4 linked regions of the Homo sapiens genome follow. The protein of the gene in region 2 purifies or fractionates together with the protein of the main gene of each other region. This does not show direct contact. Each region holds a gene or a part of one and is shown on either strand. Other genes may lie near its edges.

Evidence for each region.
Region 1: the proteins of ITPRIP (region 2) and ZDHHC11 purify together in Homo sapiens (co-immunoprecipitation; one large-scale study listed by IntAct). This does not show direct contact.
Region 3: the proteins of ITPRIP (region 2) and ADGRG5 purify together in Homo sapiens (co-immunoprecipitation; one large-scale study listed by IntAct). This does not show direct contact.
Region 4: the proteins of ITPRIP (region 2) and SLC2A12 purify together in Homo sapiens (co-immunoprecipitation; one large-scale study listed by IntAct). This does not show direct contact.

The regions. Positions count from the first base shown.
Region 1 is NC_000005.10:814,755-822,119, reverse strand, and holds part of ZDHHC11 (palmitoyltransferase ZDHHC11), read left to right. Parts: intron 1-224; coding exon 225-259; intron 260-759; exon of another isoform or gene 760-977; intron 978-2,507; coding exon 2,508-2,595; intron 2,596-4,828; exon of another isoform or gene 4,829-5,793; intron 5,794-7,324; coding exon 7,325-7,359; intron 7,360-7,365. UniProt on the Homo sapiens protein: Endoplasmic reticulum-localized palmitoyltransferase that could catalyze the addition of palmitate onto various protein substrates and be involved in a variety of cellular processes.
Region 2 is NC_000010.11:104,310,313-104,316,810, forward strand, and holds part of ITPRIP (inositol 1,4,5-trisphosphate receptor-interacting protein precursor), read right to left. Parts: intron 5,753-6,498; coding exon of another isoform or gene 5,740-5,752; coding exon 4,096-5,739; 3' UTR 1-4,095. UniProt on the Homo sapiens protein: Enhances Ca(2+)-mediated inhibition of inositol 1,4,5-triphosphate receptor (ITPR) Ca(2+) release.
Region 3 is NC_000016.10:57,561,891-57,569,255, reverse strand, and holds part of ADGRG5 (adhesion G-protein coupled receptor G5 isoform 1 precursor), read right to left. Parts: intron 7,201-7,365; coding exon of another isoform or gene 7,163-7,200; coding exon 7,099-7,162; intron 6,873-7,098; coding exon 6,797-6,872; intron 6,166-6,796; coding exon 6,009-6,165; intron 5,409-6,008; coding exon 5,277-5,408; intron 4,223-5,276; coding exon 4,106-4,222; intron 3,968-4,105; exon of another isoform or gene 2,658-3,967; coding exon 2,505-2,657; exon of another isoform or gene 1,787-2,504; coding exon 1,665-1,786; exon of another isoform or gene 1,407-1,664; intron 1,401-1,406; coding exon 1,132-1,400; intron 1-1,131. UniProt on the Homo sapiens protein: Orphan adhesion G-protein coupled receptor (aGPCR). Ligand binding causes a conformation change that triggers signaling via guanine nucleotide-binding proteins (G proteins) and modulates the activity of downstream effectors, such as adenylate cyclase.
Region 4 is NC_000006.12:134,047,846-134,055,911, forward strand, and holds the start of SLC2A12 (solute carrier family 2, facilitated glucose transporter member 12), read right to left. Parts: upstream 4,780-8,066; 5' UTR 4,636-4,779; coding exon 4,533-4,635; intron 1-4,532. UniProt on the Homo sapiens protein: Insulin-independent facilitative glucose transporter.

The sequences.
Region 1 (7,365 bases), on a different chromosome or scaffold from region 2:
TGTCAACCTATGAATTTGGAGGAGGATATAGTTCAGCCCATAATACAAGGATTGGGAGGAAGTGTGCTGTGTCACCACTGAGATCCTATTCCATGATCCAGGCAACCTTGATGTACCATTACTCAGAAGTGACTGTCAGAACTGACTAGAAATGGACTTGAATTTTTTTTAAGAATAAGTTCAATGTCAATTCATTCTATGAATTTTGCTTCACTTCCCCACAGGAAGGGGATGAAGACCCGTGTCCATCTGCACTTGGGTGAGTTTGTAAGTTTAATGGGATTATTTTATCTATTAGTAACATAGTTATACACTCGTCTCATCTCGAATTACTTAGGAAAATATGTCATCCATTTAATGTCTTCAAATATCCTGAAGTGCCAGGAGGTGGCACTTTCGAGAGAGCAGCAAAACTGTCACCTGTCCTGTGGAATCACAGCAGCCTGCGGCTTCTTTTAAAGGCTCTGTGATTTGTTTTTTTCCTGGTACGCTCCTTGGTGGTTCCTGCAGCAAAAGTCCACAGTATGAGTGTCCACATGCTGTTCTCTGTCCTGGTGGGAGCTGCACATCAGCCCTGTCTCCTGTCTGCCGTGAGCCCTGCACGCTTTCACTTGATGCTTCCCAAAACAGTTGTGTTGTGTAGTGGAGAAGAGAAGGGTAGTTCACACCCCTTCAGCAGCAAAGAAGCAGTCCTGAATATTGAATCTTTGCAGTTTCCATCCTAAATGGCTTGGCTGAGCCGCCATCTCCTTGTTTCAGTGCTGGGCACCACAGGCCTGCAGCTTCTTAGGCTCTGGGAGGAGGCGCAGTGGAAATTGAGGTCGCCGTGAGGTCGCTCCAATGTCGCCGTACACTGTTGCTGCCTGGCTACCTTCCCATCTCTGTCATCATGGAGAGTGTGGGCAGGGGACCCCTGGCCCTCTTCCTTCTTCTCCTGCCCCGGGGGGAGCAGCAGAGAGCCAAGGGGCTGGAGGAGGGTAAAGACGTTATTCATATTTCCATTTGCTTCCTTTACATTTTGATTTTTCAGGCCAGTTGGGATTTATTGTTGTATTCAGGGAGTTAAGAGATAAGGTTATTTTATCCCAACGAAGTAACTGTTGGTTTTCACCTCATGTATTAAATATTGCACCTTTCCCCATCAAATTGAAAGGCCCCTTTTCTGGTTCACTGTGTTTCCCTAAACACAGGCCCAGGTCTGTGTCTGTCTCATGGGTCTGTGTCCTGGAGGTGCATCATCTGTTTAAATTACAGAACCTTATTTAGCTACTATATTTTAATATCCTGCAGGCAAATAAGCCTCTAAAGATTTTTTCATTTTTCATTTACTTTTGACAATTCTTACACATTTATTTTTCCATATGAGCTTTCAGATGACTTTGTCCAGTTCCTAGACACATGAAATTCAAGTTCCAGTTACATTAGTTACACACTTTCCATTGGGAGGGGACCACATCACAGCCCCCACAGAGAGGCAGCAAAGGTCCTGGAAGTCAGAGTCTCCACCATGGCCAGAAAGTGGAGTGCAGCCCCCCTTCCCCAGGTGTGCACCAGCCCCACCCCTCACAGACACCGGCAGGGGCTCAGCCCACAGCTTCCTGGGCAGAAGAGACAGGGCCTGTGTCCCTGGAAATGTCACCATCCCTTACTCCACAGCCAGAGGGCAAAGGGCTTCTTAGATCAGGACAAGGCCCTGTTGGTAATGATCACAACTGCAGAGAATTCATGCAGACTTTTGCTTAGTTCAGCAGTCAAGGTGTATGGCTTACTGGGAAAAGTTCATTCCCTTTCAAACGACCCATTAAGTCTTCTATGAAATTGCTTTTCTTAGAAGGGTAATTGGCAAAACTACTGTGTAGATCCGAAGCACTTGAATATCACTTCAAACTATCATGTAACTATGGTCTTTTAAGTAAAATACAAAAATGCTTTCTCTGTGATGCATTTTGGGCAAGATTAATAGAAATGTAACTATAACCGGAATTACAAACTTTCTCTCTAAAACCAAAACAAAAGGAAAAACTAAAGTTGTGTAATGATTGCCAAATCGACATGTATATGTTGTAGAAAATTAGGGAATGGCAAGGATTTCCAGGTAAAAATGAAGGTCACCTGACCCACCTGACACCCCTGTGACATGTATGATGTGCTGTTTTATAAAATTACAGTCACCTTGTAGCCCAGTGTAGACCAGCTACACTAACGGAGGACACTACCTGTCTAAGGCACTGGTCTAGGGTGGGGCTCGCAGACTTCAGGGAGGTACTGCTTTACAGAATCCAAGTGGGAAGGAGTCCTGGTCCTTTACACGAGAAGCTCCTTCTGTTTCCCACTGTGCAGTAACCCGGGAGCACTCACACAACCTCCCGGGAGCTGCTGGTCTCCAGTTTCTGAGACACATGGGCCCCACTGCAGTGGTGCTTACAGGACACACTGTAGCCTCCAGTGCCATCCTGAGCGCCCTACAAAACTGTGGTGTGTTTCTTTCCTTCTGTTTGCCCCACCAGAGCCAAGGCCAGGAACTCCCGGCTGATTTGCAGGCGCCTGTGTCAGTTCTCCACTCGTGTACACCCAGACGGGGGCTCGATGGCACAGGTAAGTTGCAATCACTGGCGCTGTCCCCGAGGACAGGGCCATGTGCAGAATGTGTGGTCTGAGGTCCCCCAAGCTGAGGTTAAGGTAGTATTCAAAAGGGAAGCACTCTGTGTCCAAGGGTGCTGCTCACATGGGAATGATGGTGGGTGGAGCACAGAAGAGAGATGGAGTGAGAGGCAGGAATGCTTCCCAGCTGTGGGTGAGAGAGACAGACGGGTACCAAAGTGGGAGCCCTCAGCACTGCAGTGCCACCATCAGGCTGCGGTGATGGGCAGATGCCCAGGGCAGGCTCTGAAGTGCCCAGAACATGCAGTGAGGGACAGTGCCGTGATAAAGGATGGAGGGAAATTGGTAGCCATGGCAGAAGCTGTGTGCTGTGGTTTTAAAATAAAATGCTTAGGAAAGACTGTGTGTAGGAGACAGATGGGAATAGAGATGTGTTTGTGGTCACATGTGCACGTATGTGTTGGTGTGGTTTTGTGTGTGGTGTGTGGTCATGTATATGTGTGTGAATGGTGTGTGTTTGTTACATGGATACATGGACTCTGTGTCCGTCCTTCACGGGAAAAGCCCTGTGTGGCTACCGGCTTTAGGGCCACATATTTCTGTTCCTGCTCTGGGGTCAGCTTCCAGCGGTTTCTACTGGGTTGTTATTTATTTTTTGGAGATGGGATCTCACTCTGTCACCCAGCATGGATTATAGTGGTGGGATAATGGCTCACTGCAGCCTCCACCTCCTGGGCTCAAGCGATCTTCCCACCTCAGCCTCCCGAGTAGCTGAAACTACAGGCGTGTGCCACCACACCCAGCCAATTTATTTCTTATTTCTTAAGAGATGGGGTCTCACTCTGTTGCCCGTGCTGGTTTGGAACTTCTGGTCTCAAGCAAGCCTCTGGCCTCAGCCTCCCATAGCAGGGCGATTACAGGCATGAGCCACTGTACTAGGCTGTGGGGGAATCCATCTGAGAAGGCTTTGTGAGGCGGCCAGCTTCTGGAGGTTACAGGTGTCTTCTCCTTCCCTGTTGGGGCAGGGCCGCCTCACCACACTTCCCCAGGACTTCAGGGAACAGGCTCTTGAGACTTGGAAATGAAAAGGGATCAGCCAGCCTGGAGGAACAGCGACGCTGGCGTCCAAGCCTTGCCCCTTCCCTGCACTTCCAGCAAAGATATGGAGACACTCAGTGGAAACCGATTGGGCCCCCAGCCTGCCCCGCCCAGACTCACCCACCAACGTTCCCTCACTCCATGTGGCACACAGGCTCACAGGATTTTCTCTGCCTGCAATCGTCCACATGCACACCTGCTGCCGGGGTGCAATTGTGAGTCCCCTCGGTCTCTCTGCAGCATCTCGGTGTAGATGACGATTTACAGTCACCCTTGTGTGAAGCCACATGAGGCCTGGTCTGAAGCAGAGAAGATCCGCTCAGCATCACGTTGGATCCCAAGCCCGCGTCTCCGTGGGCTCCAGGACAATCCTATGAAAATAACACCGTCGGTTCATTGTTCACATCGGGGAGGAGAATTCCATCTGAAAATGCACGTGACTTCACTGACACCCGCGTCCGTGGCACAGCCCTGTGCTGAGCTCCACAGACCTACAGTCCATCGCCTCCCCTTCGAGAGGGCCCAGGGCTGCAGACAGCGTTGTCCATAGAAGACACCCTGACTCGATGAATGGAACAAACTGGAAACTCCAGAAACAAGCCCTTCTTTATATTTCTGGTGTTTGGCTTAAATGGAAGGTGCCAAGGTGAGGCAATGGGGAGACATGGAAGGGTGTGTAATGAGTGTGCTGCAGCAGCTGCATAACCACATGCCAAACACACACACACAGCTCAGTCCCACCTAGAAAGCAGTGCACAATCCATCAGAGACCTCATATTTAGAGAGGAAAGTTTAACCTCCCTAGAAAACTCACAGAATATGTTTTTTTAATACTAAATATACAGTTGTCCTCTTAAATTGGTTAAGAGCACAAAACGTAACAGGCAGAAGGTCTGTTTCAAACAAATTAAAAAGCTATGTTTTTTCAAGTGTGTTTTTAAAGTTTTCCCCAAGTGAGATATATACATACCCACAAAAATAGTGTGTGAAGGAAAGCTGTCATACGGAAGGAGTTGTGTCCTGAATTCTTCAAGGAAACACATATGGAAATATGAATTGATAGAGACAGCAACACATTAATAATTTTTTAAAATTGAATCTTAAAATGCTGCATGGCACAAAGCTATAGTATAAAGTATTGATAAGTACAAAGGGAAAAGTCTGTACAGCTTTTAGCAAAAATGCTTTTGCAGAAAAGCAAATTAAAATAATGCAAACAGCATACCGAGGTGGCCACAGCTTGACCTCAGAGCTACAACTTCTCATATCTGTGTCAGAAAATCCTATGTATCCAGAATAGAGTAAAATTTCAGGACAAAACATGGACTTTTTAACAGTTCTTACTTTACCCATTTTAAGTTATTTTTATCTCCCCTACCCCCCAGGGCAGTAATTCAGCAAGATCCAGCAGAAAGAGGGCTATTTGATGTTTCTTCCCATGGGGAGAGTGTCAGGGAGCCTGGACATTTCAGGCTCATGCATCCATGACCAGTCTCCCACTGGGGTCAGAAAAATTCAGCCATAGACTTGGTGAACTTGGCTTCCCGCTGCTGCTTTGTTCTCCTGCTGATGAAGGTCAGCTTCAGGGTGTATCTGCCATCAAACCTTTTAAGACTGGAGGGCAGCTCCCAAATAGCATCAGAATCCACTCCTGTAGGCTCTTTTCTGTGGGCCACGAGAAAGATGGTCTTCTCCTTAGATGAGGTCTAAATAGTCAGAATTCCCATCATCACAAAGCCAAAACGGGCTTGGACTCTGGAAAGGGATGCATATAATCCCAAATCACAGCCACTATGGCAAAGCAACAGGAGATTGTACAGATGGTGAGGTGACCGTCAATTAGACAAAAATTCTCCACGTATTTGTATTTTTCCAGAAGTATCTTTTTGGCAGAATCATCCAGAGTTTTTCACAGCTGATCCATCCCACTTGTCCGTTTTTCCAGGCATATCACTTATCTTCGACTTATCCACATGCCGCTACGGCCACTGCCTGTCCCGCAGCTGGAACCCCCGCCAACCCCACCACCGCCTGCGCTACCGCCCCCCTCCCGCCCGTGCAGCTGCTGCCGCCATCTGTCCGCCTCTGAGTCTCCCTCCAGAGAATATCTTTGTGATCTTCTGTTAAGCAATGTCTTCTTTGATAGATCCCAAAAACATTATTTCCGAAAAAAGAAGAATAAATGTGACTTTAAGCATTTAAAAATTTCCCTTCAATTGACACCATTAAGAGAATGAAAATATAAGCCACAGACTGAAATAAAATATTTTCAAGTCATATACTTGTATCCAGAATATTTAAAGAATTTTCAAAACTCAGCAATAAGAAAACTCTGTTTTCAAATGGGCAAAAGATTTGAACACAAAACTTCCACAAGGCAATAATATGAACGACAAAGCACATGAAAAGCTGCTCAACATCATTTCCCACCTGGGATCCACGAGCTAAAACCACAATAAGATAGCATGGCACCCATGTTAGAAAGGCTACAATAAAAATGATCAACAAGATAAGCCAGGCACAGTGGCTCATGCCTGAAATCCCAGCACTTTGGGAGTCCAAGGAGGCAGAAGGATGGTTGGAGGCTAGGAGTTTGAGACCAGCCTGGGCAACCTATCTTTAAAAAAATTAATTTTTAAAAAGATGAACAATACCAAGTGTTGGTGAATATGTGGGAGAATTGGAAGTCTCATCCATTGCTGATGGGGATGAAAGATGATGCCACATCGCCAAGCAGTTTGGCAAAGCTTCTGATGCTGAGTAGGTACTTATGATATGACCCAACACTCTCACCCCCAGATTCTTACCCAAGAGCAATGAAAGCAAGACTCTGTCTCTAAAAAATATAATTAAAAAGAAGATGAACAATACCAAGTGTTGGTGAAGACATCGGAGAACTGGAAGTCTCATGTATTGCTCATGGGGATGAAAGATGATGCCACATTGGCGAGCAGTTTGGCAAAGCTTCAGATGCTGAGCATGTACTTATCATATGAGCCAGCACTCCCACTCCCAGGTTCTTAACCAAGAGCACTGAGAACAACGTGTGTGCACACATAGCAGGTGTTTTTCTTTGCTAGAGCTTCCACAAGCAGGAACCACACATGGGGTGTTGGAACAAGAAATGTATTTTCTCACATATCTGCAGGCTGGAAGTCCCAGAGCACGGTGTCTGCAGGGTTGGTGTCTCCCAAGGCCTCTCTCCTTGCCTTGTAGATGGCCACCTGTTCTCTGTGTCCTCCCAGTCTTCCCTCAGTTTGTGTCTCTGTCATAATCTCCCCTTCATAAAAGGACACCAGTCACTCTGGATTAGGGCTCACTCTAGTAGCCTCATCTAACATCCATTACCTCTTTCAAGACCCTGTCTCCACATATAGTCACATTCTGAGGTACTGGGAGTCAGGATGTCAACCTATGAATTTGGAGGAGGATATAGTTCAGCCCATAATACAAGGATTGGGAGGAAGGGTGCTGTGTCACCACTGAGATCCTATTCCATGATCCAGGCATTCTTGAAGTACCATTACTCAGAACTGACTAGTAATGAACTTGAATTTTAAGAATAAGTTTAATGTCAACAAGGTCTTTGTTCATCCTATGAATTTTGCATCCCTTCCCCCCACAGGAAGCAGATGATGCCCCGAGTATATCTACACTTGGGTAAGT
Region 2 (6,498 bases):
CACATAGATAAGGACTCCTTAGTTTGGGGGTGAATCAAGTTACTGTCTCACTCAAAACCCGCCAATGGCCCACCTCTGCTTGTTGTGAGGTCCAAATTTACCTTGTATTAGCATTCAAGGCTTTGCATGGTTCAGCCCCACTCTTATCTTTTCAACCTCATTTGCTACGACTTCTCAGTATATGCCAACATGTACACCAGGACTGCCTGGGTTGGAATCTGGGCTGTGCTACTTACCACTGTGACAGTAGGTAAGTCAGTTGCCCCTTCAGTGCCTGTTTCCTTATCTGGAAAGCAGGGAGGATAAGAATAGCACCTACATCATAGGACTGACATGGAACTGTGTGCATTAACAAATGTGTGTGCGGAACGGTGCCTGCCATACAGTAGGTGCTTCCCACCCTCACTCCATGCTTCTGGCTGGAATGTCTTTCCTGGCCACAGTCCTGGTCATTTTTCAGAGTCTCTATCTGGCAGCGCCCCACCATGAGGCCTTCCCTAATCAGCCCAGGTACCAGTGGTTCTTGGACATCCAGAATCAGGTGGGGAACTTGGTGAAGTGCAGATTCTTCTACCTAACTTCTCAGGATCCCACTGGAGTCTGTGACACGGCCCAGGAAGCTGCCCCCAGGTGACACCCGTATGTGTAGTGCAGGGTCACACTTGGAATAGCTCAGTACTTGGAAGGCCACCTTCTGCTGCCTCTCCTAGGGAACAGGCTTGGTCCTATTCATTTTCCCATCTTCCACAATGTCTCATGCACGTTAGGCTCCTGACAAATGCTTGTGGACTATTCATGACCTGCTTGGGAGAAGGGCTCACCATCTTATGCCTTCCCACCCTCTCTCTGAGGCTTACGGCACTAGCGTGAATGTGGGTGCCCTCATGAGAAGCTTGTGGTGTAGCTGATGCCACTTAGACCACAGATTCCAAGCAGGCTCATTGGCTTTTCCCAGGTCTATCTATCTTCCAATAGATCTGTAGGGAAAGTAGTCCACTTGGGTTTTCTTTAACTTTCCATTAAGAAAGAAAGTGAGAGGGCTTCCTCAGCTAGGGGTACCATCAGTCACTTGGGGGAAATCTTTAAAAATCGAGCCTAGCCTGACCACTCCAGACTGGATTCTGAGCACCATGTAGGTTCAAGGCGGGGTCGGGGCAATGGACCAGGTTGTCTGGGTGATTCGGATGACACCCTTGATGATGAACCAGAGCTCCACCCCCAGGTTCTCAACGGGGGCTGTGCTTCAGCCAGGCATGCAGAGGGGCTAGAGCTTTTGAGGATATAAGGCCCTTCCCCAACATAACCAGCCTCTTGGCCTAGGGGCCAACTCTATTCATTTCACCCTTGTTATTTTGCAAAGCAAGTGAGCAGTTGCTGGGGAAAGTCAAGCATCCTTGGGAAAGAGACTCTGGGGAAAGAGGGCAGGGTTGTCCTTAGTGGAAAGGCCAAAGTCCCCTAGAGGACTCAAAATCCTCTATTTAAAATACAATCTCTTTCTTTAAAACCCAAAAGCTTCCTGTTAGTTCCAGCTCCTATATTTCTCGCTGACATTAGCTCTGTGAAATAAGGTCTTAGGCTGGAATCCACCCTACAGCCAGCTTTCAAAGGCCCTTTCTGGAGCCCTGCGGGCAGCACACAAGTTGCCTCAAAGACAGGGTAGAAATGTTCTGTTTTGTTATTTTTTAAAGTCTCCTGAAAGTGTAAGAATAAAAAGGGAGTGAAAGCTTCTGCTTTGTCAATAGGAAATCCACCCCCCTGTCCCCAACTCTGCCCTGGGAGCCTCACAGATTTCCTGAAGTTAAAAACAAACAGTGACCATTTCTACTCCTTGCAAGATTTAATTCTTCCTTTAATATAAATAAGGCAGCATGAAACACCAAGAGCCCCACTGCTTTCTGCTTTAGAAGCAGCTTTGGTGCAGAAAAGATTCCCGTTTCCCCACCGAGTTCTGTTGTCTCTGTACACACAAGAAGCCAGAAGATATTTTTTTTTCAGTGAACTTTCTCCTGGAAGCAAAGGAGAAGCTATGGGAGATCCAGGCATGGTTTTGGCTTCTGGAGGCTGTTTTTTGGTTACTGGGGTCTCTTCAAAGCAAAACGGGATCAGGATGAAGAGGGGGAAAGGCATGGGCCATAAATAAATAAGGAAATTTGCCCCGATTCTACAAATGCATCTGATGGAATGAGGAGGGTCAGGCTGTGAGGGATTGGGGGTAGCTCCAGGCTGCTGTTAGGGACACACTTGAGCTGGTTCATTCCCTGGAGTGCCCCGCAACTGCGTCTAGGGAGAGGCAGGCCCAAGCACATGTTCAGTCTAATTCCAGCTCACACTGGAAGGCTTCCTATAGGTTTGGTTGCCCTGATCACAGCCGAGCTGCCCCACCAGGAATTAACCCTGGTGGGCAAAGGGTCCATCTTCTCAAGCTTTCTGAGGCTGGTTGAGAGCACTCCTGGGGATGGGGGAAGGATCTCCTTCCTTCAGTTTGTGGGGTAACTGGGCACCCCTGTCAAGTTGGTTATGCTCTCGGGAAGGCATGGCCGGCTTAAACCCTGGAGGAACACGGTATATTCTTGACTCCCTGGCCCCCTGCAAGGGTAACTGAAGTAACGGTGAGATAGGAAATCTCAAAGGGCCAGTGAAGCCACAGGTGGAAAAGAGCCTTCCTGATCCCCCTGAACCAGACCTGGAGACGGAGCCCAGCTCCAACCACAGAGCTTCTGCCAGGCTCTTTGGGTCTGGGTCATCTGTGTGGTCAGCAGTGCCCACACAGAAGGGGTGGGTTCTGTGCAGTGAGGGAGCCCCGCTGGAGTGAGGAACTAGGGGCTCAGAGCCTGCAGACTGGAGCTAGGTTTCCATAGTTCTTGCTTCCATGCACACCCTGCCCTAGGATTGGGACCCTGAGGACAACCTGGGGCTATGACATCCTTGGCCCCTGATCTCTGCAACTTTCTCTGAACTGGGCCAGACTGCAAGCCAGACACCACCACCCCGGGTAGCATTTTTGAGCACCTCATCGAAGGAGTCTACTGTCTTACAGCAGAGACTTCGCTGCAGGACGCAGGGCCAGAAGAGGTTGAGAGGCTTGGCTCTGCGCACAGCCTCTGGGAGTGCCATGGCCTCAGGTGCCTTGTGGTTGCCAATGAAGAAGTGATAGAGTTTCTTTTCCAGCTGTCCTTTGCCACAGTCACCCCGTGTGTCTCTTTCTCCAGGTCAGCTTCCACCTTTAGCATCTGTCCTCCCCCTACCACAATGATAGTCAGAAAGACCAGCTTTGGAGAGAATAAAGAGAGGTGGGGGGCTGCTGAGCTGGCACCCAGTGTGGCAAATACCCACCACGCTCGGGACCCAGTACGTTGGGGAAAGGACAGCAGAAGGGGGTGCACCTGAGTGAGAAGTGTAGGGTGCAGCTGAGTGAGAAGTGTAGCTGAAAAAGTGGCTAATTGTGTTTCTCTATGCCACCAAGTACCCATTTCCGTGTGACAGAGACGTTAGTCATTTGGGCCTCGAATTTATACAAGGTCTTTTCTCCAAATAGTATAAAAAAGTGGCAGCCATGGTGGGACCACTATTGTGCAGGATGCGGATCAAAGGTGGACATTCCCATATCTGTCCCTGTTAGTGCTTTGGCTGCAGATGGTCAGGCCAGAAGCTCCTGGGAATAGGGGTGCTGGGTCTTAACACGGTTCCCTGTCAGCATTCTTGTAGATCCTCTGCTCATATTCAAGTACAGACTGGATCTGGGATTCAAAAAGAATTACACCCAATCCAACATTTGCATTGTCTCTAACTCAGGGTCCACAGCGTGTTCTGCCACCATCTTGGCCATTCATGGTGATCCAGAAGTAAACTGCAAGGGATCAGTCCCTAAACCCAAATAACAGCTTTACCAGCAGATCCCAATGGTATGAAGCAAACCAGCTTCCCGTTGAAATTCTGTTTCCTCTGCACTGTAGGGCTTGGCTTCCTGGCAGGCTGAGCACGGCTCCCACGAAAGCCCGCCTTGTCCCCAGAACAGGGCTGGCAGATGCCACCAGGGGTGTGAACGTGAGGGATGCCCTCATCTTAGCTCGAGGATCCCACATTCTGTAAAAGACGTCAGCTTTTTGGGGTAGGCTGGTCTGAGGGGACATGTAGGGAATACTCGCTAATGAGCGCTGGGGCATTCTTGAGCATCTCATAGAAGGAGTCCAGTGTCTTACGGTAAAGGCTTCGCTGCAGGACGAAGGGCCGGAAGAGGTTGAGGGGCTCGGCCCTGAGCACGGCCTCAGGGAGTCCCATGGCCTCAGGCACCTTGCGGTTGCCGATGAAGAAGTGGTGGAGCTTCTTCTGGAGCAAGCTCTTCTCCAGGAAGCACAGCAACTCGTGCAGACGAGCGTCCAGCTGCCCCGCCTTCCAGTCGGCGGCCTGCCGGAGGAGTAGGAGGTGCAGTAGGGCCGTCTTCAGGTGGTAGCTGCTGAGCCCGCTGGGACCGGTCAGGCGGCTCTGCTTGGAGAGCAGGAAGGATGCTATCTGCAGGCAGCTGAGGTGGCAGGCGCCCTCGGGCAGTGCCTTTAGTGTCGTCCTGAGGAAGTGTCGCTCATAGACAGCAAAGGACAGGAGCCAGTCTGTGCTGGAGGCTGGGGTGCCCTCAGAGGGCTCCCTGGGAAGGTGGGAGACAAAGTACAGGTCCGAGTCATCACACTGGATCACAGGAATCAGGTTGAAGGGCATGAACTTCCCTGAACGGAACTTGATCTTCAGGGACCCCGGGCTGTCCAGCTGGCCAAAGGCCAGGTCGAACTCGTACTTGTGGGCGATGCCCTTCCAGGCTCTGGTGAGGGCCGTCTGGAACCACTTCATGACCTGCATCGTGTCCAGGTACAGGGAATCTGTGGCACACAGCAGGTTCTCCATGTCGCCGCAGGGAGGCGCCATGCTGTTCCTGCCGTGCAGGAGACACAGCATGTCTTCCCCGAGCTTGGTCTTGCCGCAGATGCAGCTCAATGTGTCCCCATCGGCGCGGACCACCTTGATCTGGCCGTAGCCCTGGCGATCCAGGGGCACTGAGCGGCCGGAGCACCAGAGCTCTGGGTGGAAGCGGTAGGGCTCGGGGGGTGTGAAGGGCACGAAAAGGTGGCACAGCAGTGGCCTGTCCACCTGCCAGTTCTCGTACATGCTGTCCACGCCAATGAAGTCCTCCACCTCCATGTCGGTGTCCCGGTTGCAGAGGCTCCTCAGGGCTTCCAGCAAGTCATCCACGAAGCCTTCCAGGAACTCCCGGGTACGGGCTGCATCGGCCGTGGCCCCCCGGATGCAGCGCTCATAAAAGTGGCCAAGCGTGGCCTTGTTGGGCAGGGTGAGGCCCTGCAAGGGGGCGCCCCCCAGCCCAGGCAGCTCATCCTCCTCACCGCCCAGGCACTCAGGTGAGGGCCCCTCCTGGTGGTCCTGCCGCCACACCTCGATCATCAGGAAGAGGATCATGCAGAGGGTGCTCCAGAGGTCCCAGGCCACGCGTGTCTCGTTCTGCTGCCTGCCCTCCTCCGCCACCTGCTCCAGTGCCTCCTTTTCGGCCGCCAGCCGAGCCACCTCCTCCTCCAGGCGCAACTGCTCCAGCTGCAGCTTCTCCTGGTGCGCCTGCATCTTGCGGATGATCTCCTCCTCGTTCTCGGGGACTGTGGCGTTCTCCCGCGGGAACAGCAGCGGGTGGTTGATGATGGCCGTCACCACCACCAGACACACGCGGAAGAGCCCCATGGCCATGGTTGGAGCTTTCCTGGGAACAGAGAGACAGATGGTCACACCAAGCTTCCCTCAATGCCACTTCGTCCCTGGGCCCCGCACCAACCTCAGCCCCTCAGGGCTGGTTAAGGTCTTAGTTCTCCCACCCAACCCATCGAGAGCTCCCTGCGGCTGCCTCAGGAGCTTCAGTCCAGCCATGGAAGAGCCCCAAAGGCCTACCCTGGGGTGGACATCTGTTTTAGTCCTACCCAGACATTCCTGGATGGCAGCAGCACCCCACTGTCCCTAACCCTTTTCTCCTACCAGTCCTTATGGCCAGGGCGAGGATATACCCACCTCCAAGCTCCTGGGGTGGGCTCAAAACCCAGGCCCAAGACAATCAGACATTCTGCCGCCCAGCTACAGCTAGAGCGATTGGTTCTGGGATGAGCATTTGATCCAATTCGGGCCAATGAGAGACAGATGTAGGGTGTGTTGGGCCCAATAGGAAGAAAGACTCATCCTGTTGCTAGTTTGGTTGCTAGGTTGCTGAGGGAACAGGATTATACCTGCAGTGGGCTCTCGGGAAGGGAGCCCGCCTGAGAAAGACACCAACATAGAGGAAAGCAGAACCCCCCCTCCCCACACTCAGCTCTGCTTGAAGGCATTGCTGTCTGAGCTCTTTAGTCACACAAGTCAATAAAGAAACCCTTTTTAAGTCAGTTTGAGTGGCCTTTCCACCACTTGAAATCAAAATAGTCCTGAATAACATATCCCCTTCTCTCCCAAGTGAATGTCATC
Region 3 (7,365 bases), on a different chromosome or scaffold from region 2:
GTGGTGGTGGAGGTGAAGGAGATGATGGTGGTGGTGAAGGAAGTGGAGGAGGTGGTGGAGGTGGAGGAGGTGATGACGATGGTGATGAAGGTGGAGGAGGTGGTGATGGAGGTGGAGGAGGTGATCATGGTGGTGAAGAAGGTGGTGATGTACGTGGAGGAGGTGATGATGGTGGTGATGAAGGTGGAGGAGGTGATGGCGATAACGGAGGTGGAGGAGATGGTGATGGTGGTGATGGAGGTGGAGGAGGTGATGGTGATGATGAAGGTGGAGGAGGTGATGATGGTGGTGATAGAGGTGGAGGAGATGGAGCAGGTGATGATGGTGATGACGGAGGTGGAGGAGGTGATCACGGAGGTGATAGAGGTGGAGGAGGTGGTGATGGAGGTGATGATGGTGGAGGAGGTGGTGATGGAGGTGATGGAGGTGGAGGAGGTGGTGATGGAGGTGATGGAGGTGGAGGAGGTAGTGATGGAGGTGACAGAGGTGGAGGTGGTGGTGATGGAGGTGATGGAGGTGGAAGAGGTGATGATGGAGGTTGAGGAGGTGATGATGGAGGTGATGGAGGTGGAGGAGGTGGTGGTGGAGGTGAAGGAGATGATGGTGGTGGTGAAGGAGGTGGAAGAGGTGGTGGAGGTGGAGGAGGTGATGATGATGGTGATGATGGTGGAGGAGGTGGTGATGGAGGTGGAGGAGGTGATCATGGTGGTGAAGAAGGTGGTGATGTACGTGGAGGAGGTGACGATGGTGGTGATGAAGGTGGAGGAGGTGATGGCGATAACAGAGGTGGATGAGATGATGATGGTGGTGATGGAGGTGGAGGAGGTGATGGTGATAATGAAGGTGGAGGAGGTGATAATGGTGGTGGAGGAGGTGGAGGAGGTGATGGTGATAATGAAGGTGGAGGAGGTGATAATGGTGGTGGAGGAGGTGACGATGATGATGATGGAGGTGGAAGAGGTGATAAAATTAGTAACATAGAAAGTAGAGGTGGGTGTAGACAGAGTTCACAGCTGGTGGTCATGTAATGGCCACTATGACGATGAGGAGGAGGGGAAAGAAAGGACTAAAGGGGATCAATACCCTGCCCACCTGGAAGTCTGAGGAGGCGAGGAGAGATGATGTGCTTACCCCAGCCTAGCACACCAAGCTTGAACACATATCTGCGGATGTAGATGTTGTAGACACGCCCGAGGAGGAGGTAGAGGTTGAAGCCCTCGATGGCCATCCAGGTGAGGCAGCTGAGCAGCGCGTAGTGCAGGGCAGCGGCCAGAGCCGTGCATGCTGACCCGGGCACAGGAGACATTGCGAATGCGGGGCTCAGCAGGAAGGCGATGTTCAGGAGCAGCACGGAGGCATGCAGGTTCATGTGGATGCGTGTTAAGGAGTCACTCTGCTTCCTGCAGGTGAGAGAATGGTCCTCCATGGCCCAGGGACATCACCCAGGCAGCACTACCCACTGGGTGCATAGGTGCATGCCGACAGGGAAACTGAGGCGAAGAAGGGGCAGGGATCCCACAGCAGTCGCACCACAAGGCTGGTCTCCCGCCTCCTGGTCCCCACCCTCTGGAGAAGCACACCCAGTTCTAGTGGACTAAATGGGACACAAGGAAGCGTGATGTGCCACAGTGCAGGGCAGGCCCAGCACTGTGGCAGCGGAATACCTGAAATGGAAGTGCAGCAGGACTGTGATCAGCGAGGCCACGATGGAGATGCTGCAGCCCACGAGGGAGATGTACGTAAGAGGTGCCAGCAACTCTGCAGGGACCAGGGCTGGGGAGAGTTGCTGCAGGAGGGAAGAGGGGCTGGAGGCCAGAAGCATAGTATCGCCCTTCCTCCCAGCCTCAGTCAGAGGGACCTCCTGAGGCCTCCTCTCCAAGTCCCCTTCCCCACAAGCCTAGCCATGGACCTGGCTTGAACAAGGCCATGGCAGATACAGTCAGTTTTGCCCCCTCCACATCTCCCATCTCCCTCTTCTTCTATGAGTGCCTCCCTTCTCCCACTCCCTATGCACCTGTGGGGTTCCACCACTTTGCCCTCTTTGTGCAGAAAGGGGTGCCAGGCCTGGTCAAGCAGGGCCCTCCCTCCTTCTGCCTATAGCGATTGGGTCAGGGATGAGCACATGGCTGGCAGAACTGGGTAAAAGAAGATTTTATTCCACTGGCCTGAAAGCTAGCAGGGCATGAGCCTGGAACTGCTGCCAGCTATATTATTATCTCATAAGGAGATCCTATTTGAGGGCTAAGCCAGCACAGAGCAAGCACAGTTGAGGGACAAAGATAGAGTGCTATCTTAGTGATCTTAGTGATCAGCCCGTGGATCAAGCCATGCCTGAAGCCTAACCCAGCCTTTCCAGAAACATGAGTCCATAAAGTTTTTTTTGTTTTTTGCTTAAGCCCATTTCAGTTGGACTTTCTGTCCCTTGCACCAGCTTTTGCCTTGCTCCTCTGCCACAGACACAGGGCCCTCTGTAGCTCTGAGCCCCACTCAGGATGCATACATACCATGAGAACAGCAAAGTAGGTGAGGTGGTTGCAGCGGCAGAGCACCTGAGAGTGGGAGGGCTGCTCTGTACGACAGCCCTCAGGGCTCCAGCCCCCCCAGGGCTGTTTCCTGGCTCCCTCCTTCCAGAAGACACAGGTCAGGGTGTAGCCTTCCTGGGTGGAGATGCTGGGTCAGTCATAGGGTGCAGAGGAAAGGCTGCAGATCAGTGTCTGGGAGTCCTGGGGGCCAACGGTGACTCAACTGCACATTTGCCAACATTTTACCAGGCACTGGCTGGCCTTTGGCTTCAGACAGTCTCAGATTCCTGTCCCACCTCCACTGTGGGCTCTCAGAGTGACCCAGGCAAGACACCAAGTTGCTCTGAGCCTCAGTTTAGTCATCTACAGAATAGGATCATTCGTACCCATGTTACAACAATGGTGGAAAAACAAAGGGCAACACGGAATCTTGAGTGTCCAGCTCTGGCCTTTTATACAGTAGGCGCTCCATAACCAGCTGATCCCTTCCCTTCCTCCCCATGGGGAACAGCAATGTGCTCAGACCCACGCCTGGTTGGGGGAGACTCATCCACAGACAACCCTAATGCCAAGCCACGTGGGTGGAGAAGTGGAGGAAATGACACAGGTAGTCACGGAAGACCATGGAGGGTAGGCAGAGCTGACCCAAAGGGAGAAGGGGAGGTGGGGGCCCTGAACCCTTAGAGGACGTGTTGGATTTCAACACGAGTAGGGCAAGGGCATTCCAGGTGGAGGGAACCATAGTGGCAAAAGCCCAGAGCTGAAAGGAAAGGATGATGGTGAAATTTAGAGTGCAGGGCAGTCCTGGTGAAGCTGAAGGGAAGATGAAGCCAGAAAGCAGAGGCTCCGGGCTTTTCAGGAATGCCAGGAACCAGAAATGGAGGCACTGAGGCTTGTGAACCACCCCACTCTGCCCCCACCCCCAACAAGCAGCCCTGTCTCTGTTCCAGGATCAGCATCTGCACTTACCCTAGGAGCTCACTCCTTCACCCCAGTCCCTGGGCCGTGTGACCCAGGCCTGGCCAATCCACACATTCCATCCCCCTGGGCACAGTGACAGGTGCAGGGATGGACATGTGTGACCCAGCTGAACCTTTAAGATCCTGAGACCCTGATCTGCACTGGGGCAGGTTGTGGGTGGGGAGTCGGGGGAAGAGCCTGATGGGAAGAGGGAAAGGAAGTCTGGCTCTCCAGCATCCATCATGCCACAGAATGGACAGCCAAGACAGGAGACCATTGCTGAGACGGAGAGAGACTGAGCCACAAGGGCATCAGATCCATCCCTGGATCCAGCTATGTCTGAAGCTGGTGGATCACCTCTAGACATTTCATGGATGTGTGCCAATCAGTTCCCTCTGTGCTCAAGCTGGCTTGAAGTGGTCTTTTCTTACTTGCAACTGAAAGAATTCTGACAAATGCATGAGTAAAAACTTCTCTCTCTCTTATTTCTTGAGCAGGAATTTTCAAAGTGTGATGGATTTCCAAGATGGTTCCACAGGTTTGGGTCTAGTCAAACCAGTGTTCAACAGGAGAGTCACAGAGGGGCAGGGGTGCAGTGGAAACGGGGGCGCCCCCAGCAGTACCAGGCTTTGGTTGTGCCAGAAGCTGATGTTCACAGGATCCCTGAGGTTGTTCACGTGCCCATGACTCAGCTGGGCCCCCAGGACGTAGTTATTCAGCAGAGATGAGTTGTTTTCATCCTGGAAGGGCAGCAGGAGAAGGGCTGAGTGGAGGGGAAATGGGGAGGCCCTGGGTAAGGTCTGAGCTCCGCTTCCCTGGATGAGAACAAGCAGCAAGACTTTCACGTGTGCAGCGTGAAAGCTTTCTCAGCCTCCCAGCCTCCCAGCCTTCCCAGCCTCCCAGCCTTTGCATGTGCTGTTTCTGCCCTGTGGAAAGCTGTCCTCTCACCACCCCCTGCTCCACCTCCCATTCGTTTAATGCATTCCAGCCTCACGCCCTCCACCTCACCACTATCCTCACTCACTTTCAAAGCCAAGGTTGAAAGGCACCTTCCCCAGAAACTCCCCTGGACTGCCCACTGGGAAGAGCCCCAACCCCACCCTGACTCATCCATCACTCTGGATCTCTATGGCTATAATCAACCTTCTGCTGACATTAAATCTCTAAGATCAGGCCAGGCTCAGTGGCTCACGCCTATAATCCTAGCATTTTGGGAGGCCAAGGCAGGCGGATCACTTGAGGCCAGGAGTTCAAGATCAGCCTGGCCAACGTGGTTAAACCCGGTCTCTACTAAAAATACGAAAATTAGCTGGGCATGATGGCACACGCCTGTAATCCCAGGAGGCTGAGGCAGGGGAATTGCTTGAACCCAGGAGGCAGAGGTTGCAGTGAGCCGAGATCATGCCACTGCACTCCAGCCTGGGCAACAGAGCGAGACTCTGCCAAAAAAAAAAAAAAAAATCTGTAAGGTCTTAGTCTAGGCATCAAGACAGAGAGTTATCTGAGGGCAGGGAATAATAAGTGCCTTCTTGTCTGTCTCCCGCCTACCGACAGGCACATCGTAGGTTTCTTAGGTCTTATTTGCAGATTGTAATTATACCTTCCTACCATTCTGCTAAAGTTGGCAGGGAAACTGAGGCCCAGAGAGGGACAATTGCTGGCTTGGATTGCACAGATGGCTGGTTGGTCTCACTCAGTGCTGGTCACCCAGAGGCCAGGCAGTGACATGGGCACCTGCAGTGGATCCCAAGAAGGGGCCGGCACCCACCCTCCTTGGCCCGCCATCACACTGACCTTGAAAAAGTGGGTGTTGGAGAAGTAGATACAGATGAGCCGCAGCTCCCTGGGGCGGGTCTTGCAGGCGTCCCGGGTCAGCTCGGCGGGGAACTGCATGGCGTGCTGACCCCGGGCATGCTGACCTCCTGCCTGCAGAGGGTCGCAAACAGGCTGTTTGGCAACCAGGACCTGGAGACCTGACCCCAACACCTTCACTGCCTCCCACTCCCCGTGAAACCTTCCTTGGGGTTTCCACCCACAGAACCTTCTCCCCCCAGGCTGCATCTCCTCCCAAACTTCCCAAGATCCCAGGCCTTCCCTCCATGCTGTTCCTGAGTTTTGGATGTTTACCTGACCCACTGAACCCCTGAAGATGGAGCTACCTCAGCACCCAGCCCCAGCACCAGCCCCAGCCCCTGCCAGGGATCCAGCTGATCACCCCAGGGTCCTAAAAGGAGCCAGGGTTTCTGGCCTCTCCCACAGCGCCTCCCGCAGCGGGCAGCCTCCAGCCAAAGCAGGAAGAAGATTCTGCCCTGCAGGGGCAATAAAGCACCTCCCTTTCCACAGTTCACACAGCGAGTATGAGCCCCATTTTACAGAGGAGGCAACTCACTGCCAGTTAGGGCAGAGCCTGGACTGTGGGGTGTGGGGAGGAAGACAGTGGAGCCTAAAGAAAGTCCAGACCTTAAATGCCTGGAGGACTTCTAGGGCGGGGCAGCTGGCCACACCCCCCAACCCGCAGCCTCTGACCTGGGGCACCCGCTTCAGAGTGGCACTGGTCAGCGAGAGGCCAGAGAAGTCACAGCTCAGCTTGAAGGCCAGAGACTGGATGGTGGGTGTCTGCAAGGTCAGGTTGTAGCCTGGGAAGCTGGTGTTCAGTAGCATCTGCTCCAGCTGGTGGAGTTGACTGCAGCCCAGAGAGATGGCCAGGGAGGCCAGAGCCCGGAGTGGGGTAAGGGTGAGAGGGGGCTGTAGACAGCCTGGGAGGGCAGGGCCTCCCCACCCACACCTCTGTCACACGCACCTCCAGACCACTGCACACACAGTGTCCTTGGCACACTGTTACCTCCCTACCCCATCTATCCCCTCCTCTTGATTAACTCCTGTTCAGGTCCCAGTTTATTGTCACCTCCTCCAGGAAGCCTTCCCTGACTGCTCCCTCACAGCTTCCCAGTAGCCACTCTTAGCCCTGACCAGTCTTCAGCATTGGCCGCTCACCTAGAGCTGCTCAGTCTTTGGGTCATAGACCCTGGAGAGCCCAGCCAGAATCTTAGACCCCCTTCCCAGGAAAATGCATGGAGACCCATAATTCTGCACTTAGTGTCATGACATCTATGATTAAGGGCCCCCATTCCTCGATGATAAACTTCATGAGGGCAGTGACATGCCCATCCTGCATCCCCAGAGCCTAGTGTCAGGCATGCAGTAGGTGCTCAATAAAAGTGCTGAAGAAATGCACAGTTAAGAGTCTACATTAGACTAACCCTGACCCACTGATTCAAGGTGCAGGCTTGGGGTGGGAGGCACATCCAACTCACCGAGAGGAAAAAACTGAGCTCCGGCCCCTGGACACCTGCATATTCTCCATGTAGCTCAGGAGTTCTTCCCATGTCTCTGTGGGGACACACCTCCCCCTCAGTTTGTGTCTCAACTGCCCTCTGGCCCCACAACCTCTGGGCTTTCCATCCCACCCTGAGAGTCTAGTTCACAAGCAGCTCCTGCTGCCCCCAGGAAGCCTAAGTGGCCCTTTTCAATCTCCCATGGTTTGACGCCTCCCCCTTTTGCATCACAGTCCCACGACTGGGCTAGGGCTGCCCCCAGTTCAGCAGAGCCCCCTTACCTGTTGTTGCATTCTGCAAAGTCAGAAGGCACAGGCACAGGAAAAGGGCACCACAGTGATCCATGCCCTGTGCAGAGTCTCCTCCAAGAACTGGCTCCGGCCCTGAAAAAGGTGCATGCCATCACCATGATGATAAAAGAGCAACCTCTAACTTCTAGGTGTCTGGCATGTCCCAAGAGTAGGACATGCAGCATCTTATTTGACTCACCACTCCTGCATTTCACAGATGAGGAAGCTGAGGATGAAGGGCAAAGGGTCTTGCTTTAC
Region 4 (8,066 bases), on a different chromosome or scaffold from region 2:
GGCCCAACCTCTTGGCCGGCTGCTCTCAGGCTGGCTTGGTCTGGCTCTGCCAGGCCCTGGCAGGGCAGGCTTCCTGCAGCGTGTGTCTGCTGCTGCTTCAGAGCCTGGGAGGGGGTCTGTGGCAACCTCTCTGCTCTCTCTGGGTGACACATCCTTAGAGAGGAGCAAGACCACTGCCGCGTACGATGCATAGCACCCAGAGTTTGCAGAGAAACATCTCCCACCATGTTCGCAGCCTTTTCCCTTCCCAAGAGATCCCAGAGGAGCCATTTGCCCAGTGCTCACAGTGGTGAAAAGCCTCAAATCTAGACTTTTGATGTGATTTCCAAGTGAGGTTAAATGTACAGTCACAGAGATACGCTGACTGGACTGAAAGGGGAGATATTTATGTTTAAATCTGGTCTCATGACCACACAGAAGAGCAAGTGGTCCTCCATAAATGAACACGTCTAAAAATCCTGTCATTTCCAGCCAGGCACTGTGGATCACACCCGTAATCCCAGCAGTTTGGGAGGCCAAGGTAGGCGGATCACCTGAGGTTAGGAGTTGGAGACCAGCCTGGCCAGCATGGTAAAACCCCATCTCTACTAAAAATACAAAAATTAGCCAGCTGCTCAGGATGCTGAGGCACAAAAATCACTTGAAACTGGGAGGCAGAGGTTGCAGTGAGCCAAGATCGCGCCATCTTACTCCAGCCTAGGTGACAGAGCGAGACTTCATCTCAGAAAAAACAAAACAACAACAACAAAAAAACCTGTTATTTCCTTGGAAATACGTATCACAGTAGACACAATCATTGTTATCAGATGTTGACTTGTTAAATACATATGTTTTTAAAGCACTATAATTTTTGTCACGGGTTTTGATGCTTAATTGTTTTTAATATATAGAAAGTGTGGAAAAATGGGAATGGCCCAGCATCAAAAACTCTGAGATGCCTGGGTCTGCCCAAGGTAACTGGCCTCTTACTAGAATCTGTCTTCTCACAACCAAAGCTCTGACATCTGCCCAAGCTGGTTGGCCTGACTCCCTCTTCCCTAAGGATGAGTTTGTTTCCAAGTCTCCGTCTCTTTTACAAGTTGACTTCCCCTAGAGCTGACTGACGAAGCCTGAGAAAGCCAGGCCTGACGAAATTCCAGGGGGCCCATTTTAAGCTAAACCCGGGAGAACAGCACTCAGTAGGAACTTAGTTACAGTTACATCTTACATACTCACCACCTGCCCAGCTTCCATTTAGGAAAAAGGAGTTCACAGCTTTAAAAGCGTTTTGAGAACAACTGCCTTAGAATGTTCATCTGCTGAGCAGAAGCGTGTATTTCTTAAATTCCAGACTGTGGCATCTTCAGAGGGGATAAAGGACAGTCCTTTCAGCTGAGTTCGTGAGTCCCGTTCTTCATGTTCTGGGTCCCAGTGCCAGAGAGTTCTGCAGTGCTGACAACCTGCACTCATACAGTAAATATTGTTCTTGTTTTCTGAACCTTTGGACAGTTGGGGGTGAAGGGAAACTTAAGAGGACTCTGTCCCCAGCCAATTGTTTGGATCATGAAATAAAGGAAGCCTGGGAGCTGAAGTAGAAGTCAGTATTGAATCTCCTGGGCCAGAGGCCACCAGGGTCAGTTCTGCACCATCCTCTGTGTGACCGTGGGCCGATCACACATCTTTTGACCTCAGATTTCCCTTGTGTGAGTTGCTCCATCCGTCTAATATCTCACTTCATTTATATCTGTTGTCAACTCTAGGCACCAGAATTTCAAACTGAGCTTAATCCTGTCCTATATTAAGATGGATTGGAACATGTCCATGAAAGCTGAAAAAATTTACTAAAAATGTAACCACTTTGAGTCATAGCTTATTGAAAATGAATTAAGTTCATTAGCTTCTAGTCATTGGAACAAAGCATTCTTTTCAGTTAAAGAGGGTTAGTCAAGAAAGACCTACCAAAATTTTTCACTGTGCACAATAGCATCAAGGGAGTTCAACTGCAGACCTTAGGGGGTTGGTTTTGTTTTGTTTTTCAGTATCTCACATGATTTAATTACCTTGTCCTGAGTTATATAACTCATTCCTCTTTGTGCTTTGATTTTTCCATCTAGGAATGTAGAAAAGCTTGCTACCTTCAAATGCAGACATATTGTGATAATTGTTGAGCATAATTTAAATACTCTGAATGTCTTAAATGAAAACTATGGAAGTTGAAAATATGAAGAAGCCAAAAGGAGTATTTGACAAATATTACCTCATTAAATCTCAACACCTTCATAAAATAGATGAAGATACAATCCCAATATTAATGAATGGAGACTTTAAGTAACTTAAGAAAACCATACAGCAAGTCTGCACTATGCATTCATTTATACATATGTATGTATAATTGCTTTTGGGTGCCAAAAGATGTTTAAGATAAGTTAAGAAAATTTACAAAAGTAGAAAATAAAAGGTTTGCATTCATCTAAATGCAGATTATGTATAGCACAAATCAAAGTTGTATTCATCTGACATTTTAAGGAAACATTCAGGCTTTCTCTTCTACAAAATGAAAGTTAATTTAAAATTAAATTTGAAAGATAATTTATGGTACTTATTCATTTATTATTTCTTTACAACATAAACAGTTGCACTTTAAGTTGAATTTTGTGCATGTAACCAACTATTGCAAATGTAAATACACATTATCTTTCTTCTGGATAATTGTGAATTTGTACAATATAAGCTATTAAGAGCACATTGTACCTTCAAAGCCATATCAAAATAAACAGTCCATTTTTAATGGTTACTACAAAGGCTCTTCCTAGGCAGTTTCTTTTCATCTTCTTTGTGACATTATCACTGACTGTATTTAGTGAGCCCTTTTGTTAACATCACCACCTCAGCTTGCTCTGCAGTCTAGACTGCAGCTCATGTTCCCAGGAATTTGGAGAAAAGAACTTTGCAACTCTTTCCCTTTATCTCCAAATATAAGTTTCCCTTGCCTGCTCTTAGGGAACTTGTGGGCCAATGAGTAGCAAGCGCTTAGGGAAAAGGGTACTTCTGCATAGGAGAGGACAGGCCATATTGAAAGATGACCCCAGATATTCTTTTATTATTATTATTATTATTATGTTAGACAGAGTTTCACTCTGTCACCCAGGCTGGAGTGCAGTGTCATGATCTCAGCTCACTGTAACCTCCAAGTGATTCTTGTACCTCAGCCTCCTGAGTAGCTGAGATTACAGGCATGTGCCACTATGCTCAGCTAATTTTTTTATTTTTCTGTATTTTTAGTAGAGATAGGGTTTCCGCTCTGTTGGCCAGGCTTGTCTTGAACTCCTGGCCTCAAGTGATCTGCCCACCTTGGCCTCCCAAAGTGCTGAGATTACAGGCATGAGCCACCACGCCCGGCCTCATTCTTGACGAGAAGTGTGAAAGCAAGAGAAGAGATCAGGACATGGAAGATGGAGGGCTTCTCCACTCCTGAAGAGGGCCGCTTCATGCCTCGATGTTAGGGGTCACAGGTTCGATTCCCCAAGATCAGACAAACCCACAAGGCAAACGTCAGTATTAGGACCATTCCCAAGAGAAAGGCAGATGTCTTTTGTATCATTTAGTGTATTGGATTTTGCATGAAATTTCTATATGCTGCTTGGGAATGTAATATCTGATTAAGAATACACAGCTGAGGAAAGTAGTAGGAAAGAGAAGATTTTTTGTGTTTGTTGTCATTTCATATTACAATTACTTTCTATTCCTTGCAGCACAAACTAAATGAGCAGGAAGAGGCAGCAAAAAGCGTACAATGTATTTGTGGGAATTGTAAATGTGGAAGTGAAGACCAGCCTCTGATTTATCAAAGATCATTAAATGAATTAAAACTTTTCCAAATTTCACCTTCAGAAGGTCATCATAGCAAACAAACCTCAGTTTGCAAGGCCAGTTTTAAAGAAGGCAGAACCCAGCAAAGCAAGCGTTTCAGGCTCTGAATAACGCTCAAATTCATCACAAACGTGCTGGGAATTTAAAAAGGAAGTTTGTGTTCTCATTGATTACATAACTAATAATTTTATGAAGCCTGTTTAAAATACTGATTTTTAAAACAGTGGTTATAATGTCAACTGGTTACACAGTGTCCATTTGTGACAATAAATGAAAAAGTGTAAGCAAGCGTGTGCTTGTGTGTGTTTACAAATGAGACTATCTTTGCCAGTGGACCGTTCCAATATGAAAAACATCCATACATTGTATTATGTAAACACAATCAAGGGGACCCATCATACCAGTGGTGGATGTGTAACCTGTATTTTCTTGGCACATAAGGTTCCACCAAGACTTCGATCTTCACAACATTACAGCTCCGAGCTGTCCCACGTCCCACCAGACCCTGTCCCCTTCTCTCCACTCATCCAGCGCGCCCACATGCGCGCGCGCGCATACACACACACACACACACACACACACACACACACACACACACACACGGGACTCAAGAGACAGTACACTCGGGAGATGAGTACAGCTTGCTTCTCTGCGGTCACCCGAGCACTGCAGGCTCACTTTACCTCTCGCCCAGGGAGGATGCCGGCTGCCGCTGCCCTCCGTCTCCACGGCTGTCCCCTTCTGGTTCAGCAGACTGGGGCCCTCGGTGTTTTCAACAGGTACCATGGTCACGTAGAAGTTACAGCCGCTTCCCCGCCACCAAACCGCCCCGACCACCCCCGCTCCCAGGAGTGGTCACTTTCCCCATAATAGCATGCTAAAGAAGAGTGTGGGGAAAAACTTCGGGCAAAGCTAATGTGATTTGTGACCAACTTTGTTTCTATTTCCGAAGGCTTTGCCCTTTTCGGTGACACAGGCTGTTGCTATTCCAAGCAGCCTATCACAGGCAGGGGGAGGGCCGTGAGTCAGAGGATTGTTTTTGCCTTTAGATGCAGAGTTGGAAGCAAGGGGTTAAAAGAAAGGGAACTCAGACGGAGTGTTTGGCCATTAGCTAAGGGTAGCTCTTGTATTCTAGCACCTTTGAAAAGAGGCAGAGAAAGGAAACATGCAGATTTAAATGCAAGCTGAGAGTGGGGATAGAATACTCACAGATGGTATCAGTTAATCTTGCAGAAAGAGGAACAATTTATGCAAAGACATACCAGAAGGAAAAGTGTGTCAATTTTTCAGCAAGACTGTTATTCCAAAAGTCATGGTATTTACCAGCTTACACAAAGCATAAAATACCTTTATTGTTTCAACCTGATTTTGGTCTAGGTAAAGGCCTATATCTTTCTCTCCAAGGCCTTTCAGATAAATCACAGCCTGAGACCAAAAATACACAAACTCAGAATGCACAGATTCTTTAGACTTTTTATATGCTGAGGTTATAGCAAAGTAATCCATTTCTTAATGCAGAATTGTCTTTAAGAGACAAATTAACACTGAATCCTCTGTTAGGTTTCATGTTTGCGTAGGTAGGAGGAGGATACTCCTCACTCAGAGAGGCCAGACTAAGTGGCCCATTGTGTGCGTGTGGTGGACATGTAATCTCAAACAAAATCAGGTCATGAGAGAGGATCTTTTTCTGATTTGTGAACATATTTATAAAAAAGTCTTACAGGGTTATGACATTTTACCTTCAGTTATTCATTCAACAAATCATGTTTATTAAAAAAAAAAGCCTTATAGAGGAAATTGAGATCATCTTAAAAATCATTTGGAATAAAAACTAACATGTGTGGAGCACTTATGTGCCAGAAATTGTGCTAAGCGCAATAACGCAGATGATGACTTTGAGGCAGGTACCAACATTATAGAAGAGGAAATGGAGGTTGGGTAACTTGGCTACAGTCTCACAGCTAATCAGTGGTAGAGCTGAGATTATGAATCCAGGAGGTCTAAAGCTGTAACTCTCCTATATTCTAACTTCCCAGCCTTGTCCTTCTCTAATTTTCTTGGCTTCCTATGGTTTCAGACCTACTCGACTTTAAGAAGATGCCGTGAAATATGGCTTTTAGTCATAGGCATTTCTCTGGACAGAAAAACAAATTTGTGCTTGTATAAGCAGAAGCTAAATTTTTGTTACTTCTTTTCAACATTTTAACTGAATCACTTCAAAGTTCTAAATTCACTTATTTGTACATTTCCTTTGCTTGTCATTAAATAATTCTATATTTTTCTTATCTTTCAGGGAAACAGGTAGCAAATGGAAACAAACCTATAATAATTCAACTAGTCTTTATTATGTACCCGTTGTATGTCTGCTGATAGTGCTAGAAAATGGAAGTCCTCCAGGCATAATCCAGGCCCCTTATGATTAAGAGGGTGAGAAGTTCAGAATCCCACACATCAGTGTCCCCACTAAAGAATGTGTAACGCAACCATGGTTTGAAACAACTCATTTTATTTGTTCCCAGGGTGCATTATAATTATATAGGAGTCCCAGTTTCTATCTGTGAGACACATATGTTTCCCATAAGTTCTCTATATTCTCTTGGCTTCTAACTTCTTTCTGCTCAGAACCAATGACCTCATTAGGGGGAAAATGTTCTTGCAATGGGTTAGTTGTATCATTGCTTTGTTTCGTGATCCCACAACCTGTGTTTCTAGCAGCTTCTTGGCCCCATGGGAGTGTTAGAGTGTTTGCTATAGTGCTTGACTAGACAGAAGACAAAACTAATTCCAGAATACTTTACTATGGTTAAAAGCAGTTCAACAGTTCTCACTCTGTTTTGTGTAGCCAAACCATACAGGAGATCCACAGGCATAGTAAGCCAACCAGGAGTCAAAAAGAATGCTCAGCAATGCAACTGACAACATCACCTCCTGGTGCTCCTAATTCTGTTCTTTATTCTGCTGGTGACCTGACCGGGGCCACTGGCTATCTCAAGCTCTGTTTGTACTTACCTCAATCTCTTAACTCAGAGAAAAGTTTAGGGGAGAAAATTTTTTTCACCCAGACTAGAGGGGGGAAACTCTGCCTCAATTCTGTTACGAACCCTGTACTTCTCCTTCCCAGCCTTTTGCACACCATAATGTATTTAATACAGTTAAATGCGGTGATTCAATTAAATCTGCCTTTTCTGCTAGATTGCAAACTCTATGAGAGTATGGACTATGTTTGTTTAGTTTATTATAGTATTCTGCGTGTCTGGCACTCAGCAAATACTCAGTAAGTATTTGCTGGCTGACAGACTGATCCCTGTAAATCCAATAAACTTTAGCAACACTAGAATGTATGCTCCAAGAGGGCAGGCACCTATTTCTATCTTGCACATTCGTCCAGCTCCTAACACAATGCCAGGCATGCAGTAGACACTTAATAAATATTTGTTAGATAAATGAGTGCTCACAAATAGAGCTTTTAGTGACTAAATAACTATTTAGTTTTTAAATATTAAAATCCATATGATGATTGCCTATGACATTTTGTCCTTCCTCTCTGTTTCTGCCAATTCCTTTAGACCAAGTATAACCACAGGCTATCCATCTTCCCTGGAGTTTGAGCCACTTCCATTATTAAAATCTGTTCCTCCACTCAAGGAATTCATAATCAGCAGACAGCAGACAGTTCATTCTTCATAACCCCAATAATTTTGCTACATACCACTTTGGACCACTGCTCATAGGCAATGCTACCAAATCCAAAAACACCTATCCTGACTTATAAACTGGCACAGCGGGGAAGAGGGGATGAAAGACAAGCAGCTTCACAGGGCTCGTAAACATCTACCATAGAGCATGCCTATTTTCATGGCAATTTTTTAAAAGCTTCACAAAAACCTTGTGAAGTAAATACCGTTACTTCCATTTTGCAGAAACTGAAACCGAGAAGTTTATGAAACATTTCTAAGATCAAAACATTTTCCAATGTTGAATTATAAAAATTTGAATCCCACAGGAAAACCTACACTCGACATTTTACCATGCTTGCTCATTCACATCTATATATAACAATTCTTCCATCCATCAGTCGATCCGTATTAGTTTTTATACATATCAAAGTAAGTTGAAATACTTCAGAATGCATATTATTAAATAGAGTTCAATACTAGGTTCTTTTTTTCAAGACAAAAAAGCTCCAGAAGCAACCAATTTTCTGATATTTTTCCACA